4 separate regions of the Homo sapiens genome follow, and all the other regions are linked to region 1. Evidence: fine-mapped expression QTL. A gene starts in region 1. Each other region holds a variant in brackets. All regions are shown on one strand. Distances are from middle to middle. Region 1 holds the start of MIER2 (MIER family member 2). Region 2 holds the start of LOC101928344 (a long non-coding RNA gene). Region 3 has its middle 6.6 kb from the start of PLPP2. Region 4 overlaps LOC124904606 (a long non-coding RNA gene).

Region 1 (5,148 bases):
TTATTTTAGTAGAGATCAGGTTTCACCATGCTAGCTAGGCTGGTCTTGAACTCCTGACCTCGTGATCTTCCTGCTTCAGCCTCCCAAAGTGCTGGGATTACAGGTGTGAGCCACAGCGCCTGGCCTGTTTTGTTTTGAGATGGAGTTTTGCTCTTGTCGCCCAGGCTGGAGTGTAGTGGCGCAATCTCAGCTCACTGCAACCTCCGCCTCTCGGGTTCAAGTGATTCTCCTGCCTCAGCCTCCTGAGCAGCTGGGATTACAGGCACCCGCCACCACGCCCCATTGTGGCATTAACATTTCTGAAGAATACAGTCCCTCTTTTGTTTAACAGAATATTCCTTATTTGGGTTTGTCTGAAATTTCCTCATATGTAGATATGGGTTGTGCATTGCTGGCTGGATTCAGTGATGCCGTGTCCTGCTTTGGACACCACATCCAGGTGCACATGGTGTGCACCTGCCCTTTACCAGGGATGCTGAGTTTTATCACCCACCCAACAAGTGGCTTCATTTCTCCACTGCGACTAACAGTCTACGGAGACAGACTTTCAGACCTTAAAATATCCTTCACTCTTTTTTTTTTTTTTTTTTGAGACAGGTCTCACTCTGTTGCCCAGGCTGGGGTGCAGTGGCACAATCACTGCTTACCGCAGCCTCGACCTCCTGGGCTCAAGAGATCCTCCCACTTCGGCCTCCAGAGTAGCTGGGACTACAGGCACATTATCGTCATGCCCTCTAATGTTTAAAGTTTTTTTTTTTTTTTTTTGAAACAGTGTCTCACTCTGTTTCCCAGGCTGGAGTGCAGTGATCTTAGCTCACTGCAACCTCTGCCTTCCCAGGTTCAAGTGATTCTCTTGCCTTAGCCTCCACAGAATAGCTGGGATTATGGGCACTCGCCACCACGCCCGGATAATTTTTGTATTTTTAGTAGAGACAGGGTTTCACCCTGTTGCCCAGGCTGGTCTCAAACTCCTGACCTCAAGTGATCCTCCTGCCTCTGCCTCCCCAAGTGTTAGGATTAGAGGTGTGAGTCACCGTTCCAAGCCACAATACCCTTCTCTTCACCCAAGTCCTCATTTGACATCTATGTGATGATTCTTGCCAAGCCCTCTCCTAAGAGTCTTCCCTCGTTTTGCCAGGTGGACTCAAGCCCTTGTCTTCGGGCCCCTCCACCTGTTACAGCACAGCACCTCACTCTCTTATCTGTTCATGCTTCTCCCTGCTTCACAGGACCTCTGGCTACCCAGCACCCAGTTGAGGACTGCATAAGATATGTGTTTAGTTCACTGAATGACTGAATGAATAATAACAAATGAATAATAAAGGAAGGAACCAACTCTTGCACAAATCAGTGAGGACTCTTCAACACGAGGGCCAGAACCCTCAATCTCAATGATGTAAACCAAAAAAGGAGTGAGGGTAGACCCCTCCAGAGTGGTTCTTCTATCTCTTGGTTGGTGAATTCTCAGAGGACTGAGTAATGATTTTGCATCAGGAATCAAGGCTGATGCATGTCAAGTTCTCACTATTCATTGGCTGATCACTGGGAAACAGGAATGAGACTCATTCTCTTCTTCCTGGTCCCCAATTCCCTTCCTCCTGGTCCCCAATTCCCTTCTTCCTGGTCTCCAGTTCTCTTCTTCCTGGTCTCAGTAGGAACCGCCCTCCACTCATTTGCGCAAGCCAGACATCTGGAGGCCATCCTTCACTCTCTCCAGCTTCCCTCCATCAGCGAGTCTTGTGGTGTCCACCTTCTCAAGTCTCTCTGCACTCTGGTCCAGGCCCCACAGCTCCCACCTGGCCCCTGCCTCTTCACGCCCCACCCCTGCTTCCTATCCTCTCTCTGCATCGTGCGCCCCGAAGATTCACGGCACTTATCCGTCTCAAATTTAAGGTGTGGCGAGTCCTTGCCTTCCCATCCTCCACTCTAAACGCCCTGAAGACAGGCGTTAGGGCTGTCTCCTTCAAACCCTCAGGATCAGAACGTGCACGTGTTCCAGAAATGTTCAATCTGCGAAACGACGGACTGCAGAACCAAATGGCCCTGGGGTCAAGCCCACCTCCCTGCCTCCCGCCTTGGGCTCTCCGGCGCGGGGCCACCGTTTCTAAAACCTCTCCGACTGGTGCGCGTTCGCAAGCTCCCCGATTGGTTCCTCCGCGCGCTAGTTTGCTCATCACGGGTGCGAAAGTGCAGAAAATTCCAGAACCACGCAGCCCGGACACCAATTCTGGCTCTATCACTGACACTCTGGGTGGCCCGTCGCCCTGGGCCTCAGTTTCCTAGTCTGCCACGCGGGGTATTAACAGCGAGCAGCCGAGGGAATGAAGAGGTCACACAGGACCACGTGGTCCCCACGCAGGTGTGATTATCAGGAATTCGTATTTTTATGGAATGCAGTCTCCTCCGCCAAGGCCAAGGCCAAGATCAGGGTCCAGCAGAGACGGCCGGAAAGACACCGCAAGCTCGCCAGAAGCCGCCGGCCACGCTCGGCTGCGCGCCCGCGCCCGCGCCCGCGCACCTACTACGCGCCCGGCCCGCTCTCCGCCCCCTCCAGGCTCCGCCCCCTGCCCCGCCCTCCAGGCTCCACAGCCAATGAGTGCGCGGCCCCTCATCCGGGGATCCCGGCGCGGCCACCGCCTCCCGCGCACACACGGCCATGGCGGAGGTGAGTGAGCGGGCCGGGGGAGCCGGCCCCCCGCCCCCGCGCGTCCGCGCCCCCCGCCGCCGTGGCTCGGCCTCGTCGTGGGCCCCAGGGACGGAGAGCCCCGCTCTGGAGCTCTGAGGCCGGCCGGGGCGCCTGGCCCGTCCGGGGCCGGAGGGGCGCGGGGCTCCATCGGCGGCCGCCCCCGGCCGGCCCCCACCCCCCAACTCCCCCGGCTGCCACATCGCGGGCTGCAGTGCGCATGCGCGGCGGCGCGGGGCGGGCGGGGGCCGGGGTGGGGGAGGGGAGGGACGCGGGGCGGGGCTGGTGTCGGGGGTCCGGTGGGCGCGCGGCTCCGTTCCAGGGTCCGGCTCCGGTTCCCGGCCCCGGCCCGGGCCCCGCGGCGCGCAGGCCTCCCCTCCCGCGCCTTTGCCAACTTTGCCGAGTGCTGGGGCCGCCAGGCGCCCCGCGCTCCCCATCGGGATCCCGGTGGACCCACCGCGCCTCCGCCGCCCGCGAGCCCCCCGGCGGGGCTGGGTCAGACCCCGGGCGGGATTTGAACTCCCGACGCGGACCCGCCTGGCGCGAACTGGGCGCAGGGTGGGTGGGTCTGCCGGGGCCTAGAGAGCGTCGGGGCTGATCTCAGAAGAGTTGGACCAGCCTCTCCCGGGCACGAAGTTACTTCTGGAGCCTCCTCCCTCGTCCAGGAAACAAGCCCGGGACCCTTTATCTGAAATGTTTGGGACCAGCTATATTTTGGAATCCAGAATTTTTCCAATTTGAGGATCTGTGGGATTTTGGACTGTGATGTTTGATCAAACCCACCTAGGACTGTCTAGGATAAGACAACAGATAGCTTCGTGTCAGGTCAAACCAGGAAGGAAGAAACTTTCGCTTTTGAAGCTTTTTTTGATTTTGGAGTGGTGGATGAGCCTGTGTGGACTTGCTTTCACCTTGGAGGGCCCTGGTGAAGATGGAAAGAGATAATGTAGGTGAAGGTGCGGCGGCTGCGAGGTGCTCAGTCAGTGGGACTCAGTGCATGACTTCTGTGCGCAGAAGTTACGACAGGCGGGCAGACTCAAGAGCTGATCCTATCTCTGGGATAGAGCCCAAAGGAAAAGGTGCCCACCCAGCCAGGCACAGCCGCCTCGTGGGAAGCCGGGATTGGAACTGCGGCCTGGCCGTGGTGCCACGTTGCGTGTTTATGTCTTGGGCGTTGTGGGAGGCAGGACTGGCCATTCTCTCCCCCTGGTGACGACCTCAGGGGCAGTAACAGGCCCTGTGTTTATGCCAAAGACGGTGTAGGTGTCTCGATACTAGGCCAGACCACCGGCCAGTTCCTTCATCGAGAATTAGTTCTTCTTGAGACGCTTAGGGAGACTGAGTCCCCATGCAGATGGTGGCTGTCCTCCAGGGTCGGAGGCAGAAGCCGCGTCTCCCAGTGGCCCTGCAGCGACGTGGTGGTCGAATGAGTTGTGCTCCTGGAATCTGGGCAACACACGTGGCCTGACAGGTAGCTCTGTGTCTGGGATGGCACAAGTCAGACTCCCAAGCCAGCCTCCCCCAGAGCTGCCATGTGGCTGTTCTGCCCTGCTCTAGGCTGAGCTCCGTAAATGTGCACAGCAGCTTGTGGTCCGGCTGCTCCTGTTAACCCTGTTTTACACTTTGGGGTGGTGCCCTGTTGAGTGAATTTGATTTGATTTTCTAAGGAGGTCCCGCTCTGTCCTCGGCCTGAGGATCTGGGAGTGAATGGAGCAGACAGGGCCTCTCCTACAGGGATGCAGAGTCTGGTCAGAGAGAGACGTGGGTGGGTTAGGACCAACAAGTATGAGGTGCTGAGCGTGAGGAGCCATGGCAAGCTGTCTGACCACCGGACTTGTTCTGTGTGGTCTTGGGCAGGTTGCCCAGTGACTCAGAACTTCCTTTTCCTCATCTCTGAAATGGGAAGTTTAATGGTCACCCTTCAGAGCTAGGAGGTCTGATGAGGTCCTGCCACAACGGCTTGTACATGGAAGTTGAATCTTGTGAAGTTGACGATATTCCACTGTTTTTAACCCGTAAAAGTGGCAATTTGTAACTTTATAGCACGTGATCAGTACTAGCTACTTTATTCTGTATCAGTATCCCAGAATAATCATAAGCACCACAGTGGCAGACGGGAATGCTTCATACTTTTCTCAGGCATACTAGATTGATCTTTTAAAAACCTAAGAGCACCATCTTTTGCTCCTACCTAAAACCCTCCATGGCTTTTCATGGTCCCTGGGATAAAATGCTCCTCCTTGCTGAGTCCCACAGCCCTGTGAGGTGGTCCCCACGGATCTGCCCCCTACTCTAGGGCCCTGGGCTCCTGTTTGCTGGTGCACTCTACCCATTTGGGGGCTGCCAACGATGGTTCCACCTCGACTGAGGCCCCCCAGGCCTTCCCTGACCCGCAGTTGCAGAGCCCGTGCGCCCTGTTTTCTCTTCTCGGTACCATACATGTCCACTTGTTTGTTGTCTGTGTC
Region 2 (5,148 bases), 99 kb after region 1:
TCTTCTGTGTATATCAACCTTCTGTGTCATTTGTTAAAATTCATTACCAAACGCAAAGGCACATAGCTTTTCTTCTATAGTTTCTTCTAGAAATTGTATAGTTTTGCTTTTTTAGTGTAAGGATGATTTTGAGTGATTATTTGTGTAAGTTGTAAAGTTTTCATCTACATGCATATGATTTCTTATGGTTTCCAATTAATAATTCCCTCACTATTTTTGGGAAAGACACAGGATAGTGGGCTCTGTTAGAGTAGATAGCTAGCTAGACATGAACAGGAGGGGGAGCTCCTGGAAAAGGGAAAGTCTGTGAAGGCTCACCTGGAGGGACCACCAAAAATGCACATATTAGTAGCATCTCCAGTGCTGGAGAGGATGGGCACTTGTCAATTGTGGTTAGGAGGGAGAAGAGGTACCTACGCAGAAACACCCTAGAACTTCTCTTAAGATGCCCCAATCATCATTCACTCTGCAATAAAAATGTCAGAATATTGCTAGCTACATGCTGATAAGAAGGACAAAGGGGACATTCCTAAGAGAAACCTGGCACCATAAGTACAGATTAGGGCAGAGAAAGACATTCAAAAGAGGCAGGTGCAGTAGATACAAACGTGACTGCTGTCAGCCTGCCTGGGATGGCAGGAAGGAGGTTGGTGCCAGAGTGGATTCAGATTCATCACCCCACGTGTACCTCAATCAACAGGAGGTCCCACAAGCCTAAGTGGGGCAAGTCAGGGACCTAAGGCAGTAGCAGGAAAACCAAGGAAAACAAGCATAGACTTGAGACAGAGGCAGGAATGTGAAGAAGTCCAAAATAAAATTCCCTGCACAGGACTCTTAGGCTGTTTTCATGCACTATGAACCCACTCCTCCCTATTTTCCTACAATAAGCTCTTTACACTGTATTTCTTTTCAATGAAGTTATCTTCCATCTTTGTACTGCCTCTTGGTGAAAATCTTTCTTCCAAGTTAATAACTGGGACATCAGCTCTCCCCAGTAATAGCTCCTTTTCAGTTTTAATTTACAGAACTGATGGGGATTAATAACTGGCGCTCTGACTTTAAGTGGTGCAGGAGGCGGCCAGTAGGGGACGCCAGCCGTCACACCGGGAGCAAGAGGGCCCTGCCTAGTCCCCATCTGCCTGCAGGTGGCGTGCAGCCACGACAGTGTCAGCAAGAGGGCCCGGCAGTGTCCCTAGCTGCCAGCAGGGGGCGAACGACGACTACACTGTGAGCAAGAGGGCCCTGCAGTGTCCTTAGCTGCCAGGAGGTGGCGTAGGGGCACCACACCATGAGCAAGAGGACCGTGAAGTGCCCTGGTTGCCAGCAGGGGGCGTGCTGCCACTACACTGTGAGCAAGAGGATCCTGTAGTGCCCCCAGCGGACAGAAGAGGGCATGCCCCGACTACACTGCAAGCAAGAGGGCCCAGCAGTGTCCCCAGCTGCCAGCAGGCGGGTGTGCTGCCACTACAATGTGAGCAAGAGGGCCCTGCAATGTCCCTAGCTGCCAGCAGGCGGCGTGCCGCCAGTATACTGCGAGCAAGAGAGCCCTGCCGTGCCCCGGCACCGGCAGGGGGCGCTGGACACCACTGTAAGGAAGAGGGCCCTGCAGTTGCCCTAGTCGCCAGCAGGGGGCGCAATGGCACAGCACCGTGGGCAAGCGGGTCCTGTAGTGCCCGGGTACAAGCAGGGGGCACCCGAACCGGGCTTTTCAGATTACTCAGGTTCCACCCGTCTGTGCGCCGCGCCGCCGGGGACGTGTGTCTGCGCCTGCACCTCGCCATTCCCGCGCTCCCCGCCCAGCGGCGTGCGACTGTACACCTGCAACACGCCCCGCCACCCTGAGCCCAGCGACGTGCGTCTCTGCGCCTGCACCTGCGCCGCGCCTCACTCCCGCCCGCCCAGAGACCCCTCCCCTCCGGGGACGCGGAGGCGTGCGTCTATGCCCTGCGCCGCGTCTCCCGAACAGCGCCTGCGCGGGCGCGCCGCGCCTGCCTGCGCCGGCGCCGGCGCGCCGTGCCTTTGCGAGAGCGGAGTTGGGTTCTCCTCAGCACAGACGCGGAGAGCATCGCGAGGGCGGAGCTGCGTTCTCATCTGCACAGATTTCAGTGGTACTGCGAAGGCGGAGCAGAGTTCTCCTCAGGTCAGACCCGGGCGGGCGGGCTGAGGGCACCGCGAGGGCGGAGCTGCGTTCTGCTTAGCACAGACCTGGGGGACACCGTAAAGGTGGAGCAGCATTCTCCTAAGCACAGACGTTGGGGGCACTGCCTGGCTTTGGGACAACTCGGGGCCGCATCGACGGTGAATTAAATCTTTCCCGGTTGCAGCCGTGAATAATCAAGGGCAGAGACCAGTTAGAACGGTTCAGTGTGGAAAACGGGAAACCAAAAGCCCCTCTGAATCCTGCGCACCGAGATTCTCCCAAGGCAAGGCGAGGGGCTGCATTGCAGGGTCCAGTTGCAGCGTTGGAATACAAATGCAGCATTCCTAAGGCACACATGACACCCAAAATATAACACCCACATTGCTCATGTGGTTTAGGGTTAGGGTGAGGGTTAGGGGTTAGGGGTTAGGGTTAGGGGATTAGGGGTTAGGGGTTAGGGTTGGGGTTGGGGTTGGAGTAGGGTTAGGGTTAGGGGTTAGGGTTAGGGGTTAGGGTTAGGGTTCGGGTT[C/T]GGGCTAGGGGTAGGGTTAGGGTTAGGGGTTAGGGTTTAGGGTTAGGGGTCGGGGTCAGGGTCAGGGTCAGGGTCAGGGGTTGGGGTTGGGGTTGGGTTTAGGGTTGGGGTTATGGGGTTAGGGGTTAGGGTTAGGGATAGGGGTTAGGGGTTAAGGTTAGGGTTAGGGTTAGGGGTTAGGGTTAGGAGTTAGGGGTTAGGGTTAGGTTTAGGGGCTAGGGTCAGGTTTGGGTTAGGGTTGGGTTAGGGTTAGGGTTGGGTTAGGGTTAGGGTTTGGGTTAGGATTAGGGTTAGGGGTTAGGGTTAGGATTAGGGGTTAGAGTTAGGGTTACGGTACTGTAAATAATTTTATATTATTACTAATAATAAATTATTATTTGTATTACACTGTTACATAATGTAAACCCTATTAAGACATGTTTTTCTTCAAAGAATGGCCTTGGTTTCTGTGGGCTGTGCCTCCTCATGGAAGGGTAATGCATTCCTGCTAAATCATGGACAAAACGGGCTTCCAGGAGCTACAGACTGCAGCAGCAGCTTCTCCTCTACGTCCTTCACTGCCTCAAACTGTTGTTGACTTTGAAAGCTTCTTTCAGTCTAGTTTTATCAACAGAGCTAGTATTTCATGAGGTTCTACTACATACCAGGTTCCAGAAAGCTAAATGCCTTTTGTTTGTTATTATTCACTAAATACAAATCACAACTCTCTCCTCATTACTCACACAACAAAATTTAGCTGAGGGAGATTGAGTGACTTTCCCAGGGTCACATAGCTACTAAGAGCAGAGTCGTGTTCAGATTCATGTGGGAATATTGAACACAGAAATGAACCAGTGGAAACATCCTATGTTCCAAAAGCCTACTCAAGGCCTTTCTTCTTATTTTAAGGAAAATCTTTATGCTAATTTTAAACTCCAAATACTTATGAATGGCAGAGATCTACAGATTTGATTCTGATGTAAGAAATGATGGTCACCAGCCAGTTACTGCTACCACCCCACAACCCCGAGCATACTGGACGAATGTCTAAGCCTTGTGGTTAGTGGGGACAATGCTGGTGGAGTCTGAAGTTGTCATGCAGTGACTCATGCAAGCTTAGGCAGATTTGGTGATATATGACACAGAGATGCAAAGAAATGTTGTAGCTGACACACACAGGCTGGCTCTGGGAGATGCAGAAGGAGCACGTCACCCAAAATAGAGCCAGACAAGACATCCTTAAGGAAGGAGCAAAAGGGCTGCATCTTAAAGAATGTAGAAAGGATTTGTCATGAGAGATGGGGCAGGAAGTTCTTGAGAGGCAGAGGGAGAGCATGAGAATGTTAGGAAGGGAGGAGAGATTCTCACACATCTGGGAAGCTGACAATCCATCAGCATGGCCAGAAGGAAAATGAGGAGGAGCAGAAATAGATGAGGCTGGATATAGAAGCAGGGCTGAAGCGGTGTTGATTGTGGTAAAGAGTTGTGATTCTATCCAGAACTCAATAGGTAGCATTCTAAACAGAGATCTTTTAAACAAGAGTCAGCAAGTATTTTCTGCAAGGGGCTAAATGTTAAATATTTTAAGTTTTCCAAGCCATATGGTCTCTCTCTCAATGACTCAGCTCTTCCATTATACCATGAAAATAGCCAGAGACATTATGTAACACATGTATTGGCTGTGTCCCATTACAACTTTACTTACAAACGCAGACTGTGTCAGACATGGTCCATGCATGGTAGTTTGCCACACCCTGTTTTAGAAAGCTCAGGTTTATGATGTGATGGAGAATGCCTACAAGAGCTCTTGTTTTAAATGGTAGAGTGAACATACACTGGAATTCTATCCTGCTTGACCCAAGCTCTTGATAGCGAAAGGTAGAAAAGATAGATGGTAAATAGATAGATAGATGATAGATAAAGAAAATACATAGCTGTTCCAGAAAACAGAAATGGATAACTTCATGAACCAAAAGCAGAGTAATATACTTTAGAAAGGAAGCGGGCCGGAAAACCCACAGTTGCAAAACAAATAGAATTTCCAACTGCCTCTTGTAGCCCCTTCCTGGAAGTAGTCACAGCCCAGGGTGTTCGACTTCTTCCTCTGTTTTTTGTTTGTTTGTTGTTTGCTTTTCTGTGGGGTTTTTGTTGTTGTTGTTTGCTTTTAAAAAAAAATTCCCTTTCCCTGCTTTTTTGTCACAGCAGCCTTTGTCACTTCAAACACCGCAAGTGTTCTTTAAAAAAAATTATATCAACCTTTCAATTAAAATGCAACATGTCTGAAACTTGGTATCTGGAGAGGTGAGTTGGACAAAGGAGCCCTTGTTACTGCACGTTTTCATTCTTCAAATTTCACCTTGCACACAGTAACAGACAGTGCACAAAGCTACTTCCTTATGGACGGAAATTCTGAAATCCTTTTATGCCTGGCCTTTCCATCCTTCAACTTCCCCTCTCCCACGCTGTGAATGATTGTATTGGACATTTTTGTTTTAATGTC
Region 3 (5,148 bases), 47 kb after region 1:
CATGGGTGTCCCACAGTCTCTCCAGTCACTGGTGTCACGGCCCTGGGTGACCCACAGTCCCTCCAGTCACTGGTGTCACGGCCATGGGTGTCCCACAGTCCCTCCAGTCACTGGTGTCACGGCCCTGGGTGTCCCACAGTCTCTCCAGTCACTGGTGTCACGGCCCTGGGTGACCCACAGTCCCTCCAGTCACTGGTGTCACGGCCATGGGTGTCCCACAGTCTCTCCAGTCACTGGTGTCACGGCCATGGGTGTCCCACAGTCCCTCCAGTCACTGGTGTCACGGCCATGGGTGACCCACAGTCCCTCCAGTCACTGGTGTCACGGCCATGGGTGTCCCACAGTCCCTCCAGTCACTGGTGTCACGGCCCTGGGTGTTGTCCCACAGTCTCCAGTCACTGGTGTCACGGCCCTGGGTGTTGTCCCACAGTCTCTGCAGTCACTGGTGTCACGGCCCTGGGTGTCCCACAGCCTCCAGTCACTGGTGTCACGGCCATGGGTGTCCCACAGTCTCTCCAGTCACTGGTGTCCCGGCCATGGGTGTCCCACAGTCTCTCCAGTCACTGGTGTCACGGCCATGGGTGTCCCACAGTCTCTCCAGTCACTGGTGTCACGGCCATGGGTGTCCCACAGTCACTGTCACTGGTGTCACGGCCATGGGTGACCCACAGTCTCTCCAGTCACTGATGTCACGGCCATGGGTGACCCACAGTCTCTCCAGTCACTGGTGTCACGGCCCTGGGTGTCCCACAGTCACTGTCACTGGTGTCACGGCCATGGGTGACCCACAGTCTCTCCAGTCACTGATGTCACGGCCATGGGTGACCCACAGTCTCTCCAGTCACTGGTGTCACGGCCATGGGTGTCCCACAGTCTCTCCAGTCACTGGTGTCACGGCCCTGGGTGTCCCACAGTCTCCAGTCACTGGTGTCACGGCCATGGGTGTCCCACAGTCACTGTCACTGGTGTCACGGCCATGGGTGACCCACAGTCTCTCCAGTCACTGGTGTCACGGCCATGGGTGACCCACAGTCTCTCCAGTCACTGGTGTCACGGCCATGGGTGTCCCACAGTCCCTCCAGTCACTGGTGTCACGGCCATGGGTGACCCACAGTCCCTCCAGTCACTGGTGTCACGGCCATGGGTGTCCCACAGTCTCTCCAGTCACTGGTGTCACGGCCCTGGGTGACCCACAGTCCCTCCAGTCACTGGTGTCACGGCCATGGGTGTCCCACAGTCTCTCCAGTCACTGGTGTCACGGCCCTGGGTGACCCACAGTCCCTCCAGTCACTGGTGTCACGGCCATGGGTGTCCCACAGTCCCTCCAGTCACTGGTGTCACGGCCATGGGTGTCCCACAGTCCCTCCAGTCACTGGTGTCACGGCCCTGGGTGACCCACAGTCCCTCCAGTCACTGGTGTCACGGCCCTGGGTGTCCCACAGTCCCTCCAGTCACTGGTGTCACGGCCCTGGGTGACCCACAGTCCCTCCAGTCACTGGTGTCACGGCCATGGGTGTCCCACAGTCCCTCCAGTCACTGGTGTCACGGCCATGGGTGTCCCACAGTCACTGTCACTGGTGTCACGGCCATGGGTGACCCACAGTCTCTCCAGTCACTGGTGTCACGGCCCTGGGTGTCCCACAGTCCCTCCAGTCACTGGTGTCACGGCCCTGGGTGACCCACAGTCACTGTCACTGGTGTCACGGCCATGGGTGTCCCACAGTCCCTCCAGTCACTGGTGTCACGGCCATGGGTGTCCCACAGTCACTGTCACTGGTGTCACGGCCATGGGTGACCCACAGTCTCTCCAGTCACTGGTGTCACGGCCATGGGTGACCCACAGTCCCTCCAGTCACTGGTGTCACTGCCATGGGTGTCCCACAGTCCCTCCAGTCACTGGTGTCACGGCCCTGGGTGACCCACAGTCTCTCCAGTCACTGGTGTCACGGCCCTGGGTGTCCCACAGTCTCGCCAGTCACTGGTGTCACGGCCATGGGTGTCCCACAGTCCCTCCAGTCACTGGTGTCACGGCCATGGGTGTCCCACAGTCCCTCCAGTCACTGGTGTCACGGCCCTGGGTGTCCCACAGTCTCGCCAGTCACTGGTGTCACGACCATGGGTGACCCACAGTCCCTCCAGTCACTGGTGTCACGGCCATGGGTGTCCCACAGTCTCTCCAGTCACTGGTGTCATGGCCATGGGTGACCCACAGTCTCTCCAGTCACTAATGTTACAACCCTCGGTGTTGCCTCACAGCTCTCTCTTTTATTTTTCTCTCTCTCTGTGCTTCTGTTTGAATAATTTCTTTTTTTTTTTTTTTTTTTTGGGAGACGGAGTCTTGCTCTGTCACCCAGGCTGGAGTGCAGTGGCATGATGTCGATGATGTCGGCTCACTGCAACCTCCATCTCCTGGGTTCAAGCGATTCTCCTGCCTCAGCCTTCCCAGTAGCTGGGATTATAGGTGTGCGCCACCACACCCGGCTAATTTTTGTTTTATTTTTAGTAGACACGGGGTTTCACCATATTGGCCAGGCTGGTCTTGAATTCCTGACCTCGTGAGCCACCTGCCTCGGCCTCCCAAAGTACTGGGATTACAGGCGTGAGCCAGTGTGCCCGGCCTCTGAATAATTTCTATCGACATGTCTTTGATGCTACCAATCCTCTTTTCTGATATTCCAGATTTCTATTTAGTCTGTTTCACAAAATTTTTATTTCCCATATTGTATATTTTAATAGGTGCTCTTATGTGTTTTTAATTTTTCTGCTGAAATTCTCCATTTTCTCACCTTGCCCCTATCTTTTCTTCTGTAATCTTTAACCTTTTAATAATAGTTACTTTAAATCATTGTCATCCTATTGCTTTGCTTTTTTTTTTTTTTTTTTTTTTTTGAGACGAGGTCTCGCTCTATCGCCCAGGCTGGAGTGCAGCGGCGTGAACTCGGCGCACAGCAACTGCCACTTCCCAGGTTCAAGTGATATTGTCCTGCCTCAGCCTCCCGAGTAGCTGGGACTACAGGCACCCACCACCATGCCCGGCTAGTTTTTGTATTTTTAGTAGAGACGAGGTTTCACCATGTTTGCCAGGATGGTCTTGAACTCCTGACCTCAGGTGATCCACCCGCCTCGGCCTCCCAAAGTGCTGGGAT[T/G]ACAGGCGTGAGCCACTGAGCCCAGCCCTTTTTTTCCTTTTCTTTTTCTTTTTTTTTTTGAGACGGCGTCTCGCTTTGTTGCCCAGGCTGGAGTGCAGTGGTGTGATCTCAGTTCACTGCAACCCCTGCCTCCCAGGTTTAAGTGATTCTCCTGCCTCAGCCTCCGGAGTAGCTGGGATTACAGGCGCACACCACCACACCGCACACGCTGCCACGCCCGGCTAATTTTTGTATTCTTAGTAGAGACGGGCTTTCACCATGTTGGCCAGGCTGGTCTCAAACTCTTGACCTTGTGATCTGCCCTCCTCGGCCTCCCAAAGTGCTGGGATGACAGGCGTGAGCCGCTGTGCCCAGCCCGAAAGTTATACTCTTAAGACCCAGTCCGGGGATGCCAGGGCCTCCAGAAACAGGAATCAGGAGTCACCATCCACATTATGATGTTTCGGTGCTTCTATTTCTCTGCTGCCCGAACTGACCTTCTTCTCAGGGGCAGCGCCCTTTGTGGCGACTGAGATGGCACCAGAAGCTCCAGGCACACAACCTTACATCTGTGATTTCTGTGGGAAGCCTGTATCTTGCCCAACTGTTCTAACAAAACTCCTGGGTAAAATTTGTTCTTGGGTCTCGTGCCCATAACTGAATCAGGAACTGCCGAGCAGAAGGGGTTTCCTGGTTGGCCAGGCCAGGGTCCCTTGTTCCCCTTCGGTAGCAGGGCAGGCCCCATGGAGAAGGAATAGTAAGAGGGAGGAGCACATGGGCAGGCCGGGCGCAGCCACCCAGAGGCATGAGCGTCCCATTTGTGTGGGGTGAGCACAGAGGTCAGGAGGGCAGTGCAGGAACAACTTCCCTCTTAGGCCAAGAAATCTGAAACTGGGAAGGCAGTGGGGAGCCTTAGTGTGTTTTTTAGCTGAAGTAGAGTCACGCTTTAGGGAGATTGGATTTGACTGGAATATCTAAGATAGGTTGGAGCTGGGAGAGACCCTGGGATGCCATTGTTGACTAATATTCTGTTCTTGTCCATGGTGTCTTGTGTTTCTGAGGGTGCACTAGATGTGGGTAAGACAGTTAAGGAGCAGAGGGGATACTGTTTTGCCTCAGGAAGGGCTTGCCCCTCTCCTGTCAGCAGCTGGGTTGATGTGCTGGTCTCGAGGAGCTGGGCTGGCCTGCTCACCGCTTGTGTAGCGTAGCTTTGCCTCTGGGTTAGCTGTGGGGTGGTGGAATCCTGCCCTTCCTGCAGCCCAGACCCAGGCAGGAGGACCTGGAGGGCCCGCTGTGCCTTGGGGCTCTTCCGGATTTGTCTGACACCAGGCTCCTAGGACTAATGAGGCCTCCACCAGACTTGGTCTTGACTAACCTCAGGGGAGCTCATACCTCTCTAGAACAAACTTACTGTCCTCAGCTTTTCGGCAGCCATAAATAAAAGTCATTTGTGTTCGTTTATTTAATGCTTTCCTTTTACAGTGAAGTGAAGGTCTTTGATGACCTCCTTCCTACCTGCTAACCAAATATGGAAATCTGTTCTGGACAGAGTCCATGGCCGTGCCAGGAAGCAGGCGTTAGCCAGGGGCCTGCCTGGAGATCAGCCCTCCTGAGACAATTTCTGTGGGGGTGGAAGTGGGGGAGGGAGAAAGTCGCTCAGAACTGATGGTCCTGGACCGGCCACGGTCCCCAGAGCCTCAGCCTCCCAGGCCCAGGCTTTGTTGAAGATGTCCGGGCCCTGGACTGGCGCTGTCTGGGCCCCCACTGACCTGACCCAGCTGTTTCTCTCTCCCTGATGGTCCTTGTTTTCTCGGTTTGTAGTTCCTGGGTAGGATGGCCAGATAAAATACAGGATGCCCAGTTGGGCTCGGATTACAGATAAACGAATGTGTAAGTATGTCCCATGCAGTATTCGGGACACATACTGAAAACCGGTTTGTTGCTCTTCTGGGATTCAAATGTAACGGGGTGTCCTGTTTGTTTCACAGGTATCAGGACTCAGCTAGGGGGTCCTTGATGTTTA
Region 4 (5,148 bases), 43 kb before region 1:
TCAGGGCTGCTCGAGGACTCGCCTCAGTGTTCCCATCTGTGACAGGGAGCAATGGTGGCTGTCTTGGTGTTCCCATCTGTGACAGGGAGCAATGGTGGCTGTGCCTTCAGGGCTGCTCGAGGACTGAGTGGGAGGATGTTGCTACACGGAGTTTTGTTGATGGCATCTGTAGTTGTACAGTGACCCTACTCTCAGGCTACATGGGCTGCATCTGTTACAGCCATGGGTCTGCATTGTTCAGAATCATGTCTTGGAGGCCACGCTCTACCCACCTCTGTCTCCCATTACCGTGGGGTCTTGGCCTGCGCTGCTCTAGAACCCCAACCCCAGCTCAGGCCCCAGGAGAGAAATGGATGGGTCCCCACAAGCCAGACCGCGGCCTCCCAGAACCAGCTCATGGGGGATACGGGAGCGAGCAGAGACGTGAGGGCAGGAGCCACGGGCAGGGCACGTGCAAGAGGCCAGTGGTGGACTCAGAGGACAGGCAGACACACGGAGGACAGAGAAAGAGGGAGGGGAGAGAGAGAGAGACAGAGAGACGGAGAGGGGCATTGCCCTGTGTCTGGAGGGGAGGGGCTTGTCAAGGGCTGGGTTGGGGGTTGGGGCTGCAGAGGGACTGGGGGACTCGTCCCAGCCTCTCCTCCAAGGGCATCTTGGGCTGTTCCCCAGAAGCCGACTCTTTGGGCTGAAAATAGACCTCACAGCTCAGACACTGTCTCTGCAGCCACCTGGTGGCCCCTCACGCGTCCCCAGCTTCCCCGGAATGCCGAGTGTGTTGGTGAATTTTTTGTGTGAACTCGACTGGGCCGCAGGATCCCCAGAAGTTTGGTCAAACATCATTCTGGGCAGGTCTGTGAGGATGTTTTTGGATGAGGTGAACATCTGCAAACCACCCGCTCTTAGGAACACACCCAAACTCTGCTGTCGTGTTGAGGGTTTCATTACCATGAGTAAATCTGGGATGAATATTCATGTGTGAACGTCACTGACTACGTGCTCTGTGACATGTTTGGACACATGTGTCCCTCCAAATCTCATGCGGAAATGTGACGCCCAGAGTTGGTGTGAGGCCTGGTGGGAGGTGCTGGCTCACGGGGTAGATCCCGCCTGCAGGGCTTAGCCCATGCCCTTGGTGACACGTGAGTTGAGTTCTTGCTCACCTGAGAGCTGTTTACGATTGCGGCACCTTCCCCCTTGCTAACTCTCGCTCACCTGAGAGCTGTTTAGGAGTGCGGCACCATCCCCCGTCCTGCCTGTTGCTCACCTGAGAGCCATTTAGGAGTGCGGCACCGTCCCCCGTCCTGCCTGTTGCTCACCTGAGAGCCATTTAGGAGTGCGGCACCTTCCCTCTTGCTCCCTCTCACCCGTGACACACCAGCTCCCTCTTCACCTTCCTTGATGGGTAAACCTCCCCGGCCTCCCCAGAAGCGGCCCAGAGGCCGGTGTCACATTTCCTGTACGGCCCGCAGAACCGTGAGCAAATGAACCCTCTTCGTTATGAACGACCCAGCCTCAGGGACCTCTTCATAGCGACACACTCCACAAGACAGATGACTGGGGGTGAAGATCCTGGGCCCAAGGACGGAGCATCTGTGATGCAGGTACCTGCCGCCCAGTTCCCTTCTGAGGGCTGCGCCCGTGCAGGGCTGAGGGTGTGGGGCCTGCCCCCACGCCAGCCCATCCTTGTCAACCCTGCACGTCTCTCTGTCTCTCTCAGCTCAATGCAACCTCCACCTCCCGGGTTCAAGTGATTCTTCTCCCTCAGCCTCTCGAGTAGCTGAGATTACAGGCATGCACCATCACGCCCGGCTGATTTTTGTATTTTTAGTAGAGACGGGGTTTCACCATGTTGGCCAGGCTGGTCTCGAACTCCTGACCTCAGGTGATCCGTCCGCCTCGGCCTCCCAAAGTGCTGGGATTACAGGCCTGAGTCACTGCGCCCCGCCCTTAACTTGAATTTCTTAAGGCTGGATATGTGTTCCTAAGATCTTGGCCACCGTATTTCTTCCATTTGTAACTTGCTCATCCAAGTTCTCACTCATCCTCCTGCCGGGGTTTTGACCTGTTACTAATTTATGTGAGCTTATTATATAACAAGGATAGATGATCAAGGCCGAGGCTGAGACCCTGATGTGTACTCGAGGACACACGGCCGAGGCTGAGACCCTGCCGTGTACTCACAGACACACGCGGCCGAGGCTGAGACCCTGCCGTGTACTCACAGACACACGCGGCCGAGGCTGAGACCCTGCAGTGTACTCACAGACACACGCGGCCGAGGCTGAGACCCTGCCGTGTACTCACAGACACACGCGGCCGAGGCTGAGACCCTGCAGTGTACTCACAGACACACGCGGCCGAGGCTGAGACCCTGCCGTGTACTCACAGACACACGCGGCCGAGGCTGAGACCCTGCCGTGTACTTACAGACACACGTGGCCGAGGCTGAGACCCTGCTGTGTACTCACAGACACACGTGGCCGAGGCTGAGACCCTGATGTGTACTCGAGGACACACGGCCGACGCTGAGACTCAGAGCCCCTGTGGTCCCAGCTACTCGGGAGTCTGCGTTGGGGGGATCGCTTGACCTCAGGAAGTTGAGGCAGCAGTGTGTGGAGATTCACTGTTGCACTCCAGCCTGGATGACAGAGCAAGGCACTGCCTCAAAAATAAAGAAATACATAAATACTGAAATTTTTAGGGGTGGAGGTGCATGACATCTACAACTTAGCTTCAAATGTTCAGGAAAAAACCGACAGGAGGATAACACAGGGCGGCAGGTCGTTCACAGCGGGTGACCAGGTGAAGGACACACAGAGTTCTTACTGGGACCTTAAAGCCAATTTGACCTGTGAAGGGGTGGGTTGCCCCTCCATACCTGTGGGTGTTTCTCGTTAGGTGGAACAAGAGACTTGGAAAAGAAAAAGACACAGAGACAAAGTATAGAGAAAGAAATAAGGGGACCCGGGGAACCAGCGTTCAGCATATGGAGGATCCCGCCAGCCTCTGAGTTCCCTTAGTATTTATTGATCATTCGTGCGTGTTTCTTGAAGAGGGGGATGTGTCAGGGTCACAAGACAATAGTGGGGAGAGGGTCAGCAGACAAACACGTGAACAAAGGTCTTTGCATCATAGACAAGGTAAAGGATTAAGTGCTGTGCTTTTAGATATGCAT[C/A]CACATAAACATCTCAATGCTTTACAAAGCAGTATTGCTGCCCGCAGGTCCCACCTCCAGCCCTAAGGCGGTTTTTCCCTATCTCAGTAGATGGAACGTACAATCGGGTTTTATACCGAGACATTCCATTGCCCAGGGAGGGGCAGGAGACAGATGCCTTCCTCTTGTCTCAACTGCAAGAGGCATTCCTTCCTTTTACTAATCCTCCTCAGCACAGACCCTTTACGGGTGTCGGGCTGGGGGACGGTCAGGTCTTTCCGTTCCCACGAGGCCATATTTCAGACTGTCACATGGGGAGAAACCTTGGACAATACCTGGCTTTCCTAGGCAGAGGACCCTGCGGCCTTCCGCAGTGTTTGTGTCCCTGGGTACTTGAGGTTAGGGAGTGGTGATGACTCTTAACGAGCATGCTGCCTTCAAGCATCTGTTTAACAAAGCACGTCTCGCACCGCCCTTAATCCATTCAACCCTGAGTGGACACAGCACATGTTTCAGAGAGCACGGGGTTGGGGGTGGGGTCACCGAATCTCAAGGCAGAAGAATTTTTCTTAGTACAGAACAAAATGGAGTCTCCCATGTCTACTTCTTTCTACACAGACACAGTAACAATCTGATCTCTCTTGCTTTTCCCCACATTTCCCCCTTTTCTTTTCGACAAAACCGCCATCGTCATCATGGCCCGTTCTCGATGGTCGCTGTCTCTTCGGAGCTGTTGGGTACACCTGCAGACTAACAACAGACAAAACAGGCACACAAGGATTAATATGAGATTTATAATCATAGAACTTCCGATGGTCGTAACCCAAGCGACAGGGTTAAGATTTGCGAGGCCATCAGCCACTCCTGCGATTGCCTCCATTCCTGGCACCAAATTTAAATGGGCTTTTGATGCTTCGAAAATTTGTTCTTTCAATTTGGAAATGTCTAAAGTGAGATTATCTTCTCTTCCCTGTAGATGGCGTCTAACTATGTCCTAGTGATGCTCAGACTCATTATAAATTTGGGGTGTAATACAAAAGTCTGACGTATTCCAGTCACACTGTAACTGGAAATAATGTTCTAAGCTCATGAGCCTGTCTCCCATCCAAATGACAGGTTGTCTAAGATCATTATTTGATTTGCCAATTTTTGATCAATACTAGATTGTGAATTCCATAATCTTGTAGAATTTTTTTGCCAATCATTAAAAGTTTACCGACTGAACAGAAGAGTGCAATGCAACTCCTGCTACAGCAGCCGTAGCTGTGACTGCAATTAATCCCATAATCACTGCAATTAAAGTAAAAATGAATCTTTTGGATCTATTTAAAACGCCTTTTAATACTTCAGTCAAAATACGGACGGATGGCAAGGCCTCCTGCGGTCAGTCCGTGGACACGGGGACCCACACGCCCTCTCTTGCCCTCCCCAGCAGAATACGGTGTTGCCAATTAAAAGTCAAATCAATGCAAGTAAACAATCTGCAGTTTTCACAGGTTATAGTTTGAGAGTCTGGTTTAATAACTATATTTCCTACAACTAGCATATAAGGGGGGGCTTTACGCAACTTTGTAAAGGAACCGTTGGACTGGAATTTAGGTGGATAGTATAAAATGGCTTACAATCTCTTGTTTCTAAAGTTTGATTTCCAGACCAAATTCTAATGTGGTGTGAGGCCACAGTAAGCCTCCATAATTCTGGATGTTCAGGACCAGAAACAGGACTTATTATTTTTGGTCTTGGGGTAGAGATTCCTTTTTCTCCCCATACCCAAGGGTAGAAAGACTGTAATTTTTTATGCTTATGTTTGTCTAGAGTTTCTGTTAAGTCGCTATCAACAGCTGGACTCACTTGTGCACTTGGACACGACCGAGTTTGTCCTGAGCAACTGTGGTAGAATTGACTCGAGGTGCCCAATCTATAATAGTTCCGAATTCATTGTTTTGTAATATCACCGCACTATTGGCCACACATTCTTTCCAAACTAAAACTTC

What was found. PIP is the estimated chance that this variant, and not a neighbour inherited with it, causes the effect. A credible set is the group of variants that fine-mapping cannot tell apart.
Region 2: its variant is the best candidate, but not a certain one, in a credible set for the expression of MIER2 in whole blood (TOPMed, PIP 0.84).
Region 3: its variant is the best candidate, but not a certain one, in a credible set for the expression of MIER2 in left ventricle (GTEx, PIP 0.82).
Region 4: its variant is the best candidate, but not a certain one, in a credible set for the expression of MIER2 in esophagus mucosa (GTEx, PIP 0.51).

Annotation. Positions count from the first base shown.
Region 1 is chr19:342,291-347,438 of GRCh38, reverse strand. It overlaps MIER2 (MIER family member 2), which reads left to right and starts at 2,643. Exons shown (of 14, transcript NM_017550.3): 1 at 2,643-2,665. The coding sequence starts at 2,657. RefSeq lists silencers at 2,299-2,748, 2,819-2,868, 3,169-3,278 and an enhancer at 3,587-4,538.
Region 2 is chr19:243,389-248,536 of GRCh38, reverse strand. It overlaps LOC101928344 (a long non-coding RNA gene), which reads left to right and starts at 2,012. Exons shown (of 13, transcript XR_002958438.2): 1 at 2,012-2,140. LOC107985295 (a long non-coding RNA gene) reads left to right here and starts at 3,206. Exons shown (of 2, transcript XR_001753827.2): 1 at 3,206-5,148. The variant C/T (reference allele first, on the strand shown) is at 2,670.
Region 3 is chr19:295,401-300,548 of GRCh38, reverse strand. No RefSeq gene overlaps it. Among named protein-coding and RNA genes, the nearest start is that of PLPP2, 6.6 kb to the right of the region's middle. The variant T/G (reference allele first, on the strand shown) is at 3,147.
Region 4 is chr19:385,342-390,489 of GRCh38, reverse strand. LOC124904606 (a long non-coding RNA gene) reads right to left here. Exons shown (of 3, transcript XR_007067071.1): 3 at 3,809-5,148. Among named protein-coding and RNA genes, the nearest start is that of SPMAP2, 12 kb to the right of the region's middle. RefSeq lists enhancers at 478-1,042, 1,043-1,608, 2,174-2,738, 2,739-3,303, 3,304-3,869. The variant C/A (reference allele first, on the strand shown) is at 3,176.